Linked DNA regions of Homo sapiens: region 2 is linked to region 1. The links come from fine-mapping of genetic effects on gene expression. A gene starts in region 1. The other region holds a variant in brackets. All regions are shown on one strand. Distances are from middle to middle. Region 1 holds the start of LINC01572 (long intergenic non-protein coding RNA 1572). Region 2 overlaps ZFHX3-AS1 (ZFHX3 antisense RNA 1).

The links. PIP is the estimated chance that this variant, and not a neighbour inherited with it, causes the effect.
Region 2: its variant is the best candidate, but not a certain one, in a credible set for the expression of LINC01572 in prefrontal cortex (CommonMind, PIP 0.79).

Annotation. Positions count from the first base shown.
Region 1 is chr16:72,663,598-72,666,524 of GRCh38, forward strand. It overlaps LINC01572 (long intergenic non-protein coding RNA 1572), which reads right to left and starts at 1,373. Exons shown (of 14, transcript NR_126330.2): 1 at 1,295-1,373. ZFHX3-AS1 (ZFHX3 antisense RNA 1) reads left to right here and starts at 1,536. Exons shown (of 4, transcript NR_171704.1): 1 at 1,536-1,736. RefSeq lists enhancers at 1,115-1,234, 1,275-1,334.
Region 2 is chr16:72,768,162-72,771,088 of GRCh38, forward strand. The region is part of intron 3 of ZFHX3-AS1 (ZFHX3 antisense RNA 1); the gene reads left to right. Among named protein-coding and RNA genes, the nearest start is that of ZFHX3-AS1, 100 kb to the left of the region's middle. RefSeq lists an enhancer at 2,571-2,927. The variant A/G (reference allele first, on the strand shown) is at 1,707.

The DNA of each region.
Region 1 (2,927 bases):
TGTAGAATTGGACTGGGGTCCCACTAATATCCACATTTCAAAACAGAATCTAAAACTCCCTAAAACAGGGTTGGGCTCGGCGGCTCACGCTTGTAATCCCAACCCTTTGGGAGGCTGACACTGGAGATCAGTCTGAGCAACAAAGTCAGATCTCTTTTCTACTAAAACAAAATACAACTCTCTAAAACTAATACAAAATTTTGTGTGTATGTGTCATATTCTGGAGAAAAGCTCCAAGGTTTTCCTCTGGGTCTTAAACAGGACTAAGACCCCCCACCCCCAAAAGAATCTCTGTTCTAGAGGCTAAGCATATAGAAGCTCATACTGCATTATCAAACTGGAAAGTTAATAGAGGATTTTCATGGTCATATACAGGAGAGGTGGGGAAAGCTGTCTATTTAGACTGTAAACTCCTAAAATGTTCATAAATCTCAATGGAAATTAAATCCACCGGGGTGGGAGAAGTATCACAATAGACAAAGAAGCTAAAGGTTAATGAAGAGAAGGTTTTAATCAGTGGTTACTTTTGTGCTTGGGATCAATCCTCAGTTTGTCCTCCAACGTAACTTTTGGCATTATTCATTTCAAAGTCTGAACAGTATCCATAAACCCAATACGAAACCTATGGATCCAGAGGGTCCGACCGAAAACAAAACAATTATGTTTCCGATGTGAACGCATCAATAGCTTACTTTTGTAGCGCTTTATAAAACGCTGTCACTTGCTGCTTTCCACGTCATGATATTCCCGGTCGGGAAGAGTAGGACAGCAGCATCTTTTATGAATAAGGAATTTTTTGGATTCAATTTGTGAGGTGTGGGACGCTCACCAGGTTGCGCGAAAACCATTTTTCTACATCGTCAAGTGCACGCACCCCGTGTCTCATAGTATTAGTGATGAAGACGAGGATGAAACTACCAAAGACATCAGTGGGGAGTGAATTATACTTGGGGGAGGTGTAAGCACGTCGAAATAAGGAAGCTGAGAGACATTTTGTGAAAGAGGGAAGGTAGCGTTAAGAGGAGCCTTCCATCAGGGGCAACAGAACGGGGGCAGGCGTGGCGTCTCTGGGACTGCCGGAAAACGACGTGAGGGAAAAACTCAGAGGCTACGAAAAGGCGAACAGACGGAGGGCCTGCCTCAGGGGAGCTAAGCAGCTCGCCTGAAGCCCCCCATCTGGAAATGACGTGTTTAACTCGGCGCCCCTGCAGCTCCGGCCGCCCTTTTTTGTTTAACTCCGCGCCCCTCCAGCTCCGGCCGCCCTTTTCGTCGCTCTCCCCTCGCGGTCGCTCACCCCTGAGATCCCTGGTTCCACTGAGACGCTCAGCTTCATTCGGCAACTCGCGGACACCAAGCGCCACAAATTCAAATACGAGATCTAGAGACGCTGGGTCTCAAACGTCTCCCAGAGTGAAAGACAGAGGAACCAATCGAGGCTCGGCTGACCTCAGACGTCTAAGGCGATAGGCGTTGCTAAGAAAAGGGGGTGGGACGATACCCAGTTGCCAAGACGACGGCTTCCGGGTGGGCGGCTTGAGGTGGCTTCCGGCCGCCAGGCGAGACTCCGCGGGAAAACTCCCTGCTAGAGAGACTAGGAGATTTGGGGCTGCGGCCGTTTCCTCCGGAGCACCCACGGGACTGTGTGCTGGGGTCCCTCCACCGGCTGTGTCCTTTATTCTTCTTTCTCACCCAACGATTTACCTGAACGGTTATAAAGTGCACGTTATTTCCCTAAGGTAAGCGTGTGGTAGCGCCTCCTCCTCCTCCAACAGGGGGGTAACAGAAACCTGCTGTCAACTTTGTTACCCAACATAACTGTACTTAACCACAAAAAGTTGAAATTTTGGATCTTTAAACATTCAATAACCTCTTGCTGTGTGAGGTTTTTTAACTGCACTACATACATTTTGTAGTCTTTAACCATTGAATGCGATTTAAGTTTACAATGAAATTTAACGTTCTGGTTGTTTCTGACCCCAAATTTCATCTGAACCAGTTAATGGACGAAGAACTGAAATTTTATTTTCTGTGACAGTCTCATAGGTTCTCAGACTTAAGTTCTTAATCGCCCATAAATCTGAAGGCAGGTGTTAAAGATGAGCAGGTGATTTGAGCCCAGTCCATGCCAACACTCAAACTAATTCAGCTGAGACTCCTTTCGTTAGGAGCATTATTTTAATTTTAAAAATTTTAAACCGAATGGTAAGCATGGCTGCTTTAGTTTCAGTTGTGTCTCATTTGATGATGATAGTCCCACACAAGACGATCTCATTTGTCAATGAAAGTAAACATTAGTGACCACACAGCTTTCTGCAGATAACTCTTTAAACGAACATCTTTTATCAGACCACAGAAATCATTGTTATTGTCACTAAAATGTAAAAACTAAAGCAAAACTTATCTGCTTATCAACAATTTCTTCCTCCATAGCTAAGGTAGGGAAGCATTTATGAAAGCTTAGATCTATATGTGTTTGGGATCCTGCCAACCCCTTTCTTAAAATTCCATCTTCAAAACTCCCTGCTAATGAGCACTTTTCCAACAGCTTGGATGAAACATTCTGAATAATTCGTCAGCCTGAAGGTTAGAAATTTCATTAAATAAAAAATTAAATACACAGAATACTTAAGTATGAAACATTAATGAACTGAGTAATACATTCTTAAGAAGAGGAGGCACTTAGGAAAACACAGGCCACCTGCATTGTGGAGCCATTTAATGTGATGAGATTTGATAAATGGGTAAGAGATCAAAAAATGCCCAGGGTTTCAAAAGAGAATGTTCCATGAGCAGCTTACTGCCTACATAGACCATTTGAAAATCAAACCAACTCAGCAGAAGCCCAAGAGGCCTTCAGATGAACCCGAGTATCCTTTGGATGTCAGTGTTGTACTGAACAAAGTCAGTTGAACTGTTATTTATCTGAC
Region 2 (2,927 bases), 100 kb after region 1:
TGGAAGAGCAGAAGCTTTGAATTTCAAGTCTAATTTGTCAGTTTTCCTTCTGTGATATTTACTTGCTGTGACTAAGCCAAGAATCTGTGATAACCTAAGGTCACAAAGATTTTCTATCTTTTCTCCTTATCCATGTGTGAAAAAAATATAAAACTGGACCTCTATGTAGCATGACTTTAAGGCAGACTGTACACCCAAAATCCCTTTTAGCAAAATAATAAAGTTTTTAGAAGATAATATAGAGGAATATTTTCATGACCTTGGGGTAGGGGGGATTTCTTTAAAAAAAAAAAATCATTTATGAGGCCAGGCATGGTGGCTCATGCCTGTAATCCCAGCACTTTAGGAGGCCAAGGCAGGCAGATCACCTGAGCTTGGGAGTTTGGGACTAGCATGGCCAACATGGTAAAACCTCGTCTCTACTAAAAATACAAAATATTAGCCAGGCATAGTGGTACATGACTGTAGTCTCAGCTACTTGGAAGGCTGAGGCGCCAGAATTGTTTGAACTTGGGAGTTGGAGACTGCAGTGAGCGGAGATCATACCATTGCATTCCAGCCTGGTTGACAGCGTAAGACTCTTGTCTCAAAAAAAAAAAAAAATCATTTATGAGAGCAGGAAATGCTGATAAATTTGACTTTACTAGGAACTTCGTCAGCATATCAAAAGGCATTACGAAGAACACAAAATGCAAGCCACAGAGTAAGAGGAAGTATCTGCAACATGTATAACTAGCAAAGCACTAGCATTCAGAATATACAAAGAACTCCTACATTAGAGAAACAAATTCAAATCACAATGAGATACCAGTACAAACCTTTTAGCAGTACTATAATTTACAAAATTGACAATATCACTCTAGTGGTATTCAAAGCAACTGGAACTTTCATGCATTGTTAGTGGGAGTGTAAAATGGTATCATCATTTTAGAAAACATTTAGGTAATGTATTATCAATTGCTGCATAATAAGTTATATATATTTAGCAGCTTAAAACAACACACATTTATTATCTCACAGTTTGTATGTGTCAGGAATCTAGATGCAGCTTCACTGAGTCCCCTGCCTCAAGGACTCTATCAAAGCCTCAATCAAGGTGTCAGTCACACTTGGGGTCTCACCTGAAGCTCAAACAGGGAAGGATCCTCTTTCAAGGTCATGTGGTTGTTGGTAGGATTCAGTTCCTTGCCTCTATCATTGAAAGCCTCAGTTCATTGCTGCCTATTGGTTGCCCTCATTTTCTTGCCACTGGACTGTGCCATGTGGCAGCTTAATTCATCAGAGCCAAGAAGGATGAGAAGAAAGTCTACTAGCAAGAGAGAAGTTACAAACTTATGTAATGCAGCCATGGGAGTGACACCCCATCACCTTTGATGTATTTTATTGGTTAGAAGCAAGTTACAGGTTCCACCCAGACTCAAGACAAAGGTATTACACAAGGATACACATACCAGGAGGCTAAGATAATTTGGGGCTATTTTAGAGTCTGTCCACCACAGGTAGCAATCTTATAAAGTTATGTGTTATCTGGTTATGTGTTACCATTTACCATATGATCCCACATCTAGGCATTTATTCAAGAGAAATGAAAATATATGTTCATACAAAGATCTATACATGGATGTTTATAACAACTTTATTAAAAATTGCCCCAAACTGGAAATAACCCAAATATTCATAATCTGATGAACAGATAGTTAAATCAT[A/G]GCATAGCCATACAATGGAACACTATTTTGCAATAAGAAGGAGGTACTGATACATGTAACAACATAGATGAATCTCCAAAGTCTTATGCTTAGTGAAAAAAGCCAGACACAAAAGGCTACATACTATATAATTCTGTTTATATTATATCCTATAAAAGGCATAGCTACGGGGAAAGAACACAGATTAAGATTAGTCATTGCCTAGGCTGGGGATTGGAAGGGCATTAACAACAAAGGAGGGAACATTATGGTGGTAATGGAAACAATTTAGTATTTATTTTTATATTTACTGGTGATTACACAGTAAAATATGTGTGATTACACACACACATATTTGTCAAAACTCATAGAACTGTGTACCTGAAAAGGATGATTTTTTTCTGTATGTTGATTATACCTAAATAAATATGACTTAAGCAAGTAAAAACATTAGTACTCAAGGATTTTTGTTGTTGTTGTTAAAGACAATAGAGTTTGAAGTTTGGCTAATGGATATATTCTATTTTGCTAATGAATTTTTGAAAATTAAAATATATTCATCTTTTTTCTGAATGTTGTTTTCCCCTCTATGGCAAAAATGCCTTCTCAATTTATTGACCATGTATTGAACTCATGGAATATTCGCCTCTCATTTGCCTTGTAATTTTGAGTATTAAATACAAATTCATAAATGCCTAAGACTTAAAACCATCATTATTTACATATAAAGGCTAATGATAATAATTATTCTCACTTCCTGGACAAAACAAGAACTTTAAAAGATTTTTAACTTCATTTACCCTCTCCTAATCTAAATGCTAATGTTGTGCATTTTATTTCTATATAGTTTTTTTCAAGTTACACAGTTATTGTTTCATACTATATGTATTCATTTAGATTTGCCTATGTACAGTTTCAATATTTTTAAAATGTTCATGTCTTTTTTGTATCAGATCTTCTGTCTAGGACCATTTTCCTTCTAATTGAAGTACATTCTTTAATCAGTCTACAAGTGGCAAACTCTGTTTTTGTTCATTTAAAAATGTGTTTATTTTGCCTTTATTCTAAAATTATCCTTTTCTGGGTATAGGATTCTATGTTGGTAGTTATTTTATTAGAGCATATTGAAGATATTATTCTACTGTCCTCTGGCTTCCATTGTTTGTGTTGCATAACCAATTGACTATCTAAAAGCTATTTCTTTGAAGGTAACAAGTCTGCTTTCTATGCCTACTTTGGCCT